2 separate regions of the Homo sapiens genome follow, and region 2 is linked to region 1. The links come from fine-mapping of genetic effects on gene expression. Tissue or cell type: whole blood. Region 1 holds a variant in brackets; the other region holds the start of a gene. All regions are shown on one strand. Distances are from middle to middle.

Region 1 (6,235 bases):
GGGGGGCCACTGGAGCTGTAGTTGTCTGCTCCTTTGCACCCCTCCCAAACCCCAACCCTTAATCCTCACAGCTTTGCTCTAATCCTGTGGGGCCTGATGCTCTTATCTCTGCCTGCAGAGACTGACCAGGGAAGCACCCCTTCACCCCCTCCTCTCTCAGGGCTTGTGGTGGGGGCTGCCCCTCTCTATGGCCCCACACTCCTGCCCCCAACCCTCCTCCCGGCTGGGCCCAAGTCTCTCTGGAATCCGTACACCTCCCTCCCTCCCCCCACCCCTTCCCCCCACCCCTGCCAGCTGATTTCATTTGCCTGACGTTGTGGTTGGCTCTACCCTTCCCTGTCAGGCCCCCCCAACCCCCCGCCGGTCGGGGCCAGGCCAGGCCAGGCCAGCTCCTCTGGCAGCAGAGCCTGGGCAGGTGACGGGCGGGCGCGGGCGTCGCAGCTGAGGGAGTAAGGAGGCTCCCAGGAACCGGAGCTGGAAACCCGGCCGAGGTCCAGCCAGAGCCCAAGTAAGAGGGAGCTGGCCTGGGCTCTGCTCTCCTGGGCTGGGGCGCAGGCAGGGCTCAGGCAGGCTGGGGCTGGACGCAAAGGACCTCAAACTTGGAGGGCCTAGCTGGGGAGAGGGTGCAGCCACCCAGTCGTTTCCCTGTGTCTTGGAGTCTGGTGTGGGCACGAAGGGCAGAAGCACAGCCTGGTGGGGGGTTCCTCAACACCGACCCCATGTTCCTGGCAGGAGCCAGAGTGACCCCTCGACCTGTCAGCCATGGGGGAGATGGAGCAACTGCGTCAGGAAGCGGAGCAGCTCAAGAAGCAGATTGCAGTAACTCCAGAGCCCTACCCCTGGGGCCCCAGAAAACAGCTGGGGACATGAGGAGCGTGGCCCAGGGGGAGGGGGCTGGGTTTGCTCTTGAGTGACTAGAAGTGACCAGGGACTTTCTAAACTTGGTTCGCATATTTGAGACCCCCAAGCCCCAGAGCCCCAAGACCAACCTGCCCTGAAGGCCCATGCACCTGCCACCCCCACCTCGCCCTTGCTCCCCTGATGTCTGCTTTCCCTGCAGGATGCCAGGAAAGCCTGTGCTGACGTTACTCTGGCAGAGGTAAGACCCCCTGTCCCCCGGAAGGCAGGGCATGGGGGGAGGGGAAGGGAGCTCCCCGACCCGCAATAGCGCGTTGCTCCGAGCATTAGTACAGCACGTCCTTGGAGTGAGGAAACCCATTAATTAATTCATTCGACCAACATTTTAGCGGGACCTGCTCTGAGCCAGGCACCATATTGGATGCGAAAGATGCGGACACGGTTCCTATTCTCATCCGTAGAACAAGAGTGACCACAGCCCCCTCCCAGGGCCTTGAAGATGAAGAAGCGATAGTACTTTGTAAATTATAAAGCCCTTGTAGACTCTAGCTGCTAGTTTTCTATGCTGTATTTTGTCAATTCTAAGATGCACATTTCTTCACATTTTGACATCTCTGAAATCAAGGTGCATTCAGCAATGGATCATTGTTTCAATTAGAATTGACAGCATCTTTTCTTTCTTAGTGATGCATCTTAGATTGGATTAAATATGTTAATAGTGAACACTTTTTATGAGCCAGATACTGGGCTAAGCTGCATAAATACCTGATTTCATTGAATTTTCATGATATCTCTGTAAGGTAGGTGCTATGATAAGCCTCATTTTACACCTTGAGTAAACAGACTCAGGGAGGTGAAGCAACTTGCCCAAGATAACAAAGCAGGCCGGGCGCAGTGGTTCACGCCTGTAATCCCAGCCCTTTGGGAGACTGACGTGAAAGGATCACTTGAGCTCAGGAGTTTGAGACCAGCCTGGGCAACATAGTGAGATCTCTTCTTAATATAAAAAAAATTGCTTTTAACTTTTTAAAAAAAGATAGCAATGCAAGTGATGGCAAATCAAGTCTGTTCACTCTGGACCCCCAGCCTAAGTCTAAAATGTGGTTAGAGCTCAAGGGGCATAGTACCACAGATTTCAGGAGGTACAGTTCAGGGTCATGGTGATGCCCCAGGCACCCAGTTAAAAAGCTAGCCGTGCTGCAGCGGTGGGTGCAAGCAGGCTCCTCTCGGCTTGGGAGAGCCAGCTCTGTGCATCTCTTCCCAAATCTGTTTCCAATGACCTCACATTGGCAGCTGGAAACTGGTCAAAGTGCAAGTATTCGTATCGTGGAAATCACCTTCCCACCTTCCTCACCAACACTGGAGAGGTGCTTGTTAAACACTTACAAGCAACACACCTCTGGCCATGCATGCATCTCTTTCCCACATCAGTCTAAGACACTCCAGGGCAGAGACTTATTTCTCTAAGGCTGGGGGCCTGACCTAGAGCCTGGCACAGAGCGGGAACTTGTATAGATCAGTGGCAGTGACAGACATCTGGGCACGTAACCTGCTCACCCTGATATTCAGTGCCCCTCTCTCTGCAGCTGGTGTCTGGCCTAGAGGTGGTGGGACGAGTCCAGATGCGGACGCGGCGGACGTTAAGGGGACACCTGGCCAAGATTTACGCCATGCACTGGGCCACTGATTCTAAGTGAGGCTTGGGGGGGAACCGAGAATGGGAGGGTGAGAGCGGGAGTGAGGAAGGCGGGAAGGGGAGGCTTGCATGATATGGGATGCCCTCTCCCCAGGCTGCTGGTAAGTGCCTCGCAAGATGGGAAGCTGATCGTGTGGGACAGCTACACCACCAACAAGGTACCAGCCCTGCCTCCCTGAGCCTCCACCACTGCATCCTTCCTAAGGGCGCCATGCCTACCCTCCTGTGCCCAGCTGGGAGCTTGGCTCCGGTCCCATCTCTGCTCAAACCACCCTCCCTGCAGGTGCACGCCATCCCACTGCGCTCCTCCTGGGTCATGACCTGTGCCTATGCCCCATCAGGGAACTTTGTGGCATGTGGGGGGCTGGACAACATGTGTTCCATCTACAACCTCAAATCCCGTGAGGGCAATGTCAAGGTCAGCCGGGAGCTTTCTGCTCACACAGGTGAGGGAGAGACCCTCTCCTCCCCTCCTGAGGGGTTCAGGGAACCCTGGGCTTCCAGTGGGCTGTGGCTCTGCAGCCAGGGCACTGTCCTTCTAACCGCCTCCAGGTTATCTCTCCTGCTGCCGCTTCCTGGATGACAACAATATTGTGACCAGCTCGGGGGACACCACGTGGTGAGGCTGAACATTGCTGGTGCTGGGGCTTGGGAGTGGGCCCGGCCTTTCTCTAACAGTCTCCCTCCATTTTGGCAGTGCCTTGTGGGACATTGAGACTGGGCAGCAGAAGACTGTATTTGTGGGACACACGGGTGACTGCATGAGCCTGGCTGTGTCTCCTGACTTCAATCTCTTCATTTCGGGGGCCTGTGATGCCAGTGCCAAGCTCTGGGATGTGCGAGAGGGGACCTGCCGTCAGACTTTCACTGGCCACGAGTCGGACATCAACGCCATCTGTGTGAGTGCACCCCCCACCCCAGCTTCACTCCAACTCCTTCCCCGACACTCCCCACAACACATACAATACACATCCTCTGCCCCTCCCATAGCTTCCCTAGCCCTTTCTTACTGTATTTTTTTTTTTTTTTTTTTTTTTTTTGAGACAGAGTCTCACTTTGTCGCCCAGGCTGGAGTGCAGTGGTGCAATCTTGGCTCACTGCAACCTCTGCCTCCTGGGTTGGAGCAATTCTCCTGCTTCAGCCTCCTGAGTAGCTGGGATTACAGGTGTGCGCCACCATGCCCGGCTAATTTTTGTATTTTTAGTAGAGATGGGGTTTTGCCATGTTGGCCAGGCTGGTCTTGAACTCTTGACCTGAGGTGATCCTCCCACCTCAGCTTCCCAGAGTGCAGTGCTGGGATTACAGATGTGAGCCACTGTGCCCAGTCTTCCCTAGCCCTTTCTTTCTTTCCTTTTTTTGGAGACAGAGTCTCACACTGTTGCCCAGTCTGGATGCAGTGGTGCTATCATAGCTCACCGCAGTCTCAACCTCCAGGGTTCAACCAATCCTCCCACCACAGCCTCCTGAGTAGCTGGGACTACAGATGCGTGTGACCACGCTTGGCTAATGTTTTGATTTTTGTGTAGAGATGGGTTCCCACTATGTTGCCCAGGCTGAGCTGGAACTTCTGAGCT[C/A]AAGCGATCCTCCTGCCTCAGTCTCCCAAAATATTGGGATTACAGGCATGAGCCACCACGCCTAGCCCATTTTATCACGTTTGCTTTATCATTTTTTCTCTGTAGAGAAATAGCCATAGATACACACACACATACACACTTAGATGTAGATATACATTTTCTTTCTGTGTCTTTTGAAAGTAGGTTGCAGACATCATGTTTCTTTACCCCTTAAGTACTTCCCGAAACAAAGCCCTTCTGTAGCATAATCACTGTATGATTCTTAAGATCAGGAAACTCAACATTGACACAATACTACAGTCTACAGTCTATATTCAAATTTCACCAATAGCCTCAAAAATGTCCATAATAGCTCATGTTTTTTTCTGTCCAGGATCCAATCCAGAAACGTGCATTACCTTTCCTCGCCATATCTTTTTCGTCACCACCTTTAAACTGGAACTGTTTTCCCACCTTTGTCTTTTATGTCATTGACGTTTTTGAAGAGTACAAACCAGTTTTCTGTAGACTCTCCCTCCGTTTGAGCTTATCTGACATTTGCTCGCCGTGAGATCCAGGCCTTGCATTTGTACTGGACCCTGTTCTTACACACCCTGATCCAGCCCACTTGTGTAGTCTGGGAGTCTGGGACAACCTCCGTCCGCCCTTCTAGCCGGGTCACTGCAGGCAAGCCTTGGTGCTCTTGCCTGCGACGTGGAAATGATGCCTGCCTGCAGCGCTGTATAGTGCAGAGCGGGCGAGGGGCATAGGGAAGTCACTGGCACGTGGTATGTGTTGGCAGGGCTGCTTCTCACCCCAAACCAAGGGAGGGACAGGCAGGGAGGCTGAGAGCAGCGGCTTGCCCTGGAGCTGTCAGGTGGGAGGCAGAGGGCGGGAGAGGCTGTGGGCTGCCCAGGTCTGATCCCTGACCCACTTGCCACCCGTGCCCTCAGTTCTTCCCCAATGGAGAGGCCATCTGCACGGGCTCGGATGACGCTTCCTGCCGCTTGTTTGACCTGCGGGCAGACCAGGAGCTGATCTGCTTCTCCCACGAGAGCATCATCTGCGGCATCACGTCCGTGGCCTTCTCCCTCAGTGGCCGCCTACTATTCGCTGGCTACGACGACTTCAACTGCAATGTCTGGGACTCCATGAAGTCTGAGCGTGTGGGTAAGGGCCAGCCCTGGCTGCTGCTTCCTCAGCTGGAAGGACCCTCCCCAGCCCTCCCTCCCCATTCTGTACCCCCCATCAGCTCCCATTTCGGACTCTCTTACTGCTGTCCCTTGTCACTGGGTGACTCCACCCCTGGAATCCAGTACCCCTTGGTTCCCAACTAGGACTGTTTTCCCTCAGTGTTGCTCTAAGCAGCCTCTCTCCACTGCCCAATGCCATGACTGCTCCCTGCCCTAGGAGATCTGTGGACCATGACTGTCCAGTCAGTTCTGGGTTCCTGGCATTTCAGGGGCACCCACTGAGAGGCAAGACAGCCTCAGGGAAACATGGAATCAAGGCAGAATCAAGGAGATCTGGAGTGGCCCGAGGGCCCTGACTGCAGCCTAGGGCTCATCTAAGACTAGCCTGAAGTTGGTCAGATAGGATGGCTTCTTCTCTATCAAGAGGCCAGGTGCTGATGAAAATAACACTGGCCAGGGGCAGAATCCAAATCCTAATTCTGTTGCTCACTTTCTGAGTGTCCTTGCACAAGTCACTCCTCCATGGGCCTCAGTTTCTTCATCTGGAAGCAAAGAAATAGGATGAACGGTTGCCTTCTCTTTTCCAGCACCTGTCAAGGTGCCCTCGGGTTTTTTCATAGTACACAGATGCTTCCAGCCTTTCTCTGTCTGATCCCAGCCCTCCCCCAACCAAAGCTCTTGACAGAGAACCCCCTGCCCTACAGCTAATCCTCTTTCAGTCTCTTAGCCTTCTTCAGGGGTTGAGCCCAGTCTACCGAGTCTAGGATCCCTGCATGCATGTGCTCAAGCACACATGCACACACACACGTACACACACCCACACATGCATACACATGCACACATATCCCCCCACACACCCACATACACACACACACCCACACACCCACACATACACTTACACGCATGCACACACTGCTTTCCAAATCAGCTTGGAG
Region 2 (5,617 bases), 71 kb after region 1:
GTCTCAATGATTGGCAGGTGCCTCTGGGGCCAGAGATGCTAAGCATCCAACAATGTATGGCAGAGTCCAGTACAAAGTTCCTGTAGCCCTCCTGGTGAGAAACACTGCATGAGGCTCAGCACGACCATGAGATCAGGCTGAAACACTTAAATAGATTTCATAAAAGCTTAAAGCCAGAACATGAAAATAAATAAAATTCCAGGCATGGTGGCTCACGCCTGTAATCCCAGCACTTTGGGGGGGCCAAGGCAAGAGGACTGCTTGAGGCCAGGCGTTCAAGACAAACCTGGGCAACATAGTGAGACCCAGTCTCTACAAAAAATTTAAACATTAGCCAGGTGTGGTGGCACATGCCTGGAGGTACTTAGGAAGCTAAGGTGAGAGGATCACTTGAGCCCAGGAATTCAAGGCTGCAGTGAGCTATGATCATGCCACTGCACCCCCAACCGGGGTGACATAGTGAGACCCTGTCTCAATAAAAATAAAATAAAAACAGAGTATCATATAATGAGGCACATTAGGAGATGAAGTTTATTCTTCAGGTTGGGAGGCTCCAACCCATCCATAGCCTTAGGTTCTCTTTGTGGAGAGCACGAACCGAGCATCCACCACCCTAAACTCCAGCTTAGATCCCAGTTCCTTGTCCACTGACCTAGGTCCTACAGGGTGGAGTGCAGTGGCTCGATCTCGGCTCACTGTAATCTCAAACTCCTGGGGTCAAGCAATCCCTCCTCCTCAGCTAAGTAGCAAGGACTACAGGTGTATGCCATCACGCCCAGCTAATTTTTTTATTTTTAGCTTTTGTACAGATGGGGTCTCGCTATGTTGCCCAGGCTGGGTCCTACCTTCTACCCTCCATTTAGGTGTGATCACAGAAAATGTCTCTCCCTGTGAGGAAAATTTGCCCTCTCCTCCCCAGCTACAAGACAGGGTTGTGGCCTAGCTTTGCTGCACCAAAAGAACACATGAATGTATTACAGAGTAGAATATGGCACTTAGGGATTCCTTGAAGGGCAGAAGCAGGACCAGAGCGGGGTCACACAGCACCTCTGCAGTAAATCTGGCAAGGCTTGGCAGGCCAGTCCTCACAGTGTTTCTAGGGACACTGGAACCCCGAGAGTCCCCCAGAGGCCCCATTCCTAGCAACTGGCAACCAAAGCCCATTATTCCTGCATGAACCCCTCCTGACCACACTGGCAGGGGCAACATGGTGGCCAACCTGGGGGAGCTGGCCAAGCTTCGAGACCTGCCCAAGCTGCGAGCGTTGGTGCTGCTTGATAACCCATGCACGGACGAAACCAGCTACCGCCAGGAGGCCCTGGTGCAGATGCCATACCTTGAACGCCTGGACAAGGAATTCTATGAGGAGGAGGAACGGGCTGAGGCTGATGTGATTCGACAGAGGCTGAAGGAAGAAAAGGAGCAGGAGCCTGAGCCCCAGCGTGACCTGGAACCCGAACAGTCATTGATCTAGCAGCAGTTCTAGCCTCTAAAGATAGTAAGGAAGCCTGCAGGGAGGCAGTGGGAGGAGGCCAAGGGCTGGGCAGGTAGGGGAAGAGGCAAGAGGGGAAGCTGCTGCAGAAGGAGGTGGGAGAGGAAAGCATCAGACAAGCAGGACCCTTAAAGAGAGGAGGGTTAGGAGTCAGGGAGAGGAAAAGGGACCCAAGGGGCCTGGGACCAGCTGAGAAAGACTTAGGAGGCCAGAAGAGTAAGTGAAAAGAATTGGGGTGGCAGGCAGAGGAGTTGGTGGGGGGTGGGGCAGCCATACCTGACACAGAGTGAAGTCGGCTAGGAAAGGACAGGTGTGGGTGCATGGTAGGGGCTGCAGGGGAAAGTTGGTGGTGTATGCAGCTGGACCTAGGAGAGAAGCAGGAGAGGAAGATCCAGCACAAAAAATCTGAAGCTAAAAACAGGACACAGAGATGGGGGAAGAAAAGAGGGCAGAGTGAGGCAAAAAGAGACTGAAGAGATGAGGGTGGCCGCCAGGCACTTTAGATAGGGGAGAGGCTTTATTTACCTCTGTTTGTTTTTTTTTTTTTTTTTTTTTTTTTTTTGCGAGGTAGTCTTGCTTAGTCTCCAGGCTGGAGTGCAGTGGCACAATCTCAGCTCACTGCAACTTCCACCTCCTGGGTTCAAGCAATTCTCCTGCCTCAGCCTCCCGAGTAGCTGGGACTACAGGCGCATGCAACCGCGCCTGGCTAATTTTTGTATTTTTAGTAGAAACGGGGTTTCACCACGTTAGCCAGGATGGTCTGGATCTCCTGACCTCGTGATCTGCCCGCCTCCGCCTTCCAAAGTGCTGGGATTACAGGGGTGAGCCACAGCGCCTGGTCCCTATTTACTTCTGTCTTCTACCTCCAGGAGATCAAAGACGCTGGCCTTCAGACCTGATCAGACTCCCAGGGGCAGCCACCACATGTATGACAGAGAACAGAGGATGCCTGTTTTTGCCCCAAAGCTGGAAATTCATCACAACCTGAGGCCCAGGATCTGCTCTGTGCCGGTCCTCTGGGCAGTGTGGGGTGCAGAATGGGGTGCCTAGGCCTGAGCGTTGCCTGGAGCCTAGGCCGGGGGCCGCCCTCGGGCAGGCGTGGGTGAGAGCCAAGACCGCGTGGGCCGCGGGGTGCTGGTAGGAGTGGTTGGAGAGACTTGCGAAGGCGGCTGGGGTGTTCGGATTTCCAATAAAGAAACAGAGTGATGCTCCTGTGTCTGACCGGGTTTGTGAGACATTGAGGCTGTCTTGGGCTTCACTGGCAGTGTGGGCCTTCGTACCCGGGCTACAGGGGTGCGGCTCTGCCTGTTACTGTCGAGTGGGTCGGGCCGTGGGTATGAGCGCTTGTGTGCGCTGGGGCCAGGTCGTGGGTGCCCCCACCCTTCCCCCATCCTCCTCCCTTCCCCACTCCACCCTCGTCGGTCCCCCACCCGCGCTCGTACGTGCGCCTCCGCCGGCAGCTCCTGACTCATCGGGGGCTCCGGGTCACATGCGCCCGCGCGGCCCTATAGGCGCCTCCTCCGCCCGCCGCCCGGGAGCCGCAGCCGCCGCCGCCACTGCCACTCCCGCTCTCTCAGCGCCGCCGTCGCCACCGCCACCGCCACCGCCACTACCACCGTCTGAGTCTGCAGTCCCGAGGTGAAGCCCCCGCCAGGCCCAGAGCCCCTGTGGCCCCCTCCCTTCGCCGCGGCGCCCCTGCCTCCTTTACCCGGTGCCGCTGCGCACCTCTCCGCATCTCTGGCCCGGTGCAGCTGCGCACCTGCTCCGCCGCCCGCGCCCAGGGCGCCTTCCCTCCCTGGCCTTCCCCGCCCGCTGCCTTCGCTTTCTGGCCCTCTGCGCGCCTATCTCTAACTGCGCCTCTCCACCCTTGCCTGCCTCTCTCCCGGTGCTCGCCCTCATCTACGGTTCTATTTGTTTCTAAGTTGGGAGCCTCTCCGGGCGGTGCATTTTTATCCTAGAGCGTCCCTTTTGGTTTGCATTTGGGGAAATGTCTTCTCTCACCGTTCCTCACCTCCCCCAGACTTCCCTTGGACTCCCCTCTCTCCTGCTCTTCCCCACGGCGCCCCTCTCCGTTCGCGCTTCCTCCCCTCTGCTGCACGGGGGAGAGATGGAAGAAGTGGGGATCTGTCGAGGCGCAGAGGGGAGGACAGGCCCAGCTCGCCTCCACTCCCCACCGGCTCTTATCCTCTTCACTTCCCGCTGCAACCCCCAGGGACTGCAGGGCCTTTCTCAGGACCCTCTTCCCCGACACCTGTATTGCATGCGCCTTTCGCGGGAAGAGGAGGGATACACGTTTGGGAGAGAGTGGGACCTTGGGGAAGGGGCAGTGTTCAGGCAGCTGGGGTGTTAAGTTGGGGAGGTATGGGGGCTCTGGAAGAGAGGCCCAGGCAGCCCATCCTCTTCTTGGCTCCCAGGAGAAATGCAAGCCTGGCAGCCATTCCGCTCTGAGGAGATCTGGGGGAACCCCACCGGCTGGCCAAGCTGCAAAGAGGCGCGGGAACCACTGTCGTGCCCCTCCCCTCCTCACTGCAGTGTTCTCCCATCTCATCATTTGATCTTACCCCGCCCCCCACTGCAGTGACCTCCCCTTCCTCACTGCATTGACCTTCTCCTCTTCCCAGGGGGGAGGGGGAATCCCTTCTACAGCCCTAGACTGCAGCCAGCGCCTCCCTACCCACCCCCCACCCACTGCAGTAACCTCTTTCCCATCCCTCCCAGCCTCCCGCCCCGCCCATTGATCTCAGGCTCCACCCCTCTAAGCCTCTTATCTTTCTCCTTCCTTCCCTTCCACCCGAGGAGATCCCAGCCATCATGTCCATAGAGAAGATCTGGGCCCGGGAGATCCTGGACTCCCGCGGGAACCCCACAGTGGAGGTGGATCTCTATACTGCCAAAGGTAATGGGTGTGGCATGGGCCTTCCTACAGCCCTAGCTTTTCCACGGCCAGGCTGGGTTCGGCCAGGGGTTCGGAGGCCTTTTTTGATACCCAGGGGTATGGGGTGCTGGGCCAGGCTCACAAGCCTGGGTTGTGGCGGTTGGATCCTCCTTGTCCGGGGAGCCAGGGTAGGTGGGTCTGTGTTCGAGTTTAGCGTGTGAGGCATGTCCTGCCTCCGTGTGTCTGCCTGTGCACTTGCATGTGTGCAGACGTGTGCTGCAAGCAATTTTCTTTCTGCGGGCTCCCACTTGTGCATGTGGGGCCTCAGATGGGTGGATGAGGAGGCCACTTCTTGTGCATCTGCCTCAGTGTGTGTGTGGGGTGGGGGTGGGGGGATGTTAGGGAGCAGTGTGGGGAGAGAGCTAGATGTGGTAGGCAGGCAGTTTAGAGCCAGAAGGCTGAAGGACTCCCTGGCCCCTGTGTCCTCTTCACTCCCTCTCATTCCATGTTCCTCCTTTAGGTCTTTTCCGGGCTGCAGTGCCCAGTGGAGCCTCTACGGGCATCTATGAGGCCCTGGAGCTGAGGGATGGAGACAAACAGCGTTACTTAGGCAAAGGTGAGGTCCCTTCTCTTTTCCAGACTCTCCCCCACCTCAGCCTTATGCCCCTACCTCACACCAGTCCCCAGTCCTCCTCTAGCATGGCTTCCCCTCCTCCCATTGATCCCTTCCGGCCCCTCCTGGCCCGACCCAGTCCAGCCTCTTCCTTTCCCCAGGTGTCCTGAAGGCAGTGGACCACATCAACTCCACCATCGCGCCAGCCCTCATCAGCTCAGTGAGGCCTGCTCTTTGCTGGGGATAGCAGGGCCAGAGTTCTGGAAGGAATCCCGGAGCAGGGCAGGAGGAAGGGAAGAAAGAAGGCCCACTCTTAGGAATCATGGTTACAAGGGGGAAGGGTGGGGAACAGCTTCCTTAATGCACCCTGCTCCCATGGGAGTTCAGGTCCCCTAATCCAGGTAGGCCCCTGTCACAGGGACCTGGTTGGACCCTGGCCAAATGTGAGCTTGGGTGTGAATGAGGGGACCCTCTGCCTTAGGGCTCAGCCTCCAGCCTGGCCCTGGGTGATGGAGGCTCTGCCCTCAGGGTCTCTCTGTGGTGGAGCAAGAGAAACTGGACAACCTGATGCTGGAGTTGGATGGGACTGAGAACAAATGTGAGCCGGGGCCGGGAGAAAGTGGGGAAGCGTCAGGGT

Evidence for each region. PIP is the estimated chance that this variant, and not a neighbour inherited with it, causes the effect.
Region 2: it holds the start of ENO2, and the variant in region 1 is fine-mapped to the expression of ENO2 in whole blood (TOPMed, PIP above 0.99).

Annotation. Positions count from the first base shown.
Region 1 is chr12:6,840,526-6,846,760 of GRCh38, forward strand. GNB3 (G protein subunit beta 3) reads left to right here and starts at 400. Exons shown (of 10, transcript NM_002075.4): 1 at 400-508; 2 at 733-819; 3 at 1,061-1,099; 4 at 2,445-2,551; 5 at 2,649-2,712; 6 at 2,838-3,000; 7 at 3,107-3,173; 8 at 3,252-3,453; 9 at 5,061-5,277. The coding sequence starts at 763. It also overlaps a transcript of CDCA3 not described here. The variant C/A (reference allele first, on the strand shown) is at 4,129.
Region 2 is chr12:6,911,530-6,917,146 of GRCh38, forward strand. It overlaps ENO2 (enolase 2), which reads left to right and starts at 3,051. Exons shown (of 12, transcript NM_001975.3): 1 at 3,051-3,130; 2 at 4,292-4,388; 3 at 4,888-4,983; 4 at 5,142-5,200; 5 at 5,509-5,578. The coding sequence starts at 4,304. LRRC23 (leucine rich repeat containing 23) reads left to right here. Exons shown (of 8, transcript NM_001135217.2): 7 at 1,201-1,498; 8 at 2,362-2,700. The coding sequence ends at 1,474. RefSeq lists enhancers at 2,454-2,523, 2,554-2,723, 3,402-4,043, 4,044-4,683 and silencers at 2,834-3,323, 2,855-3,045.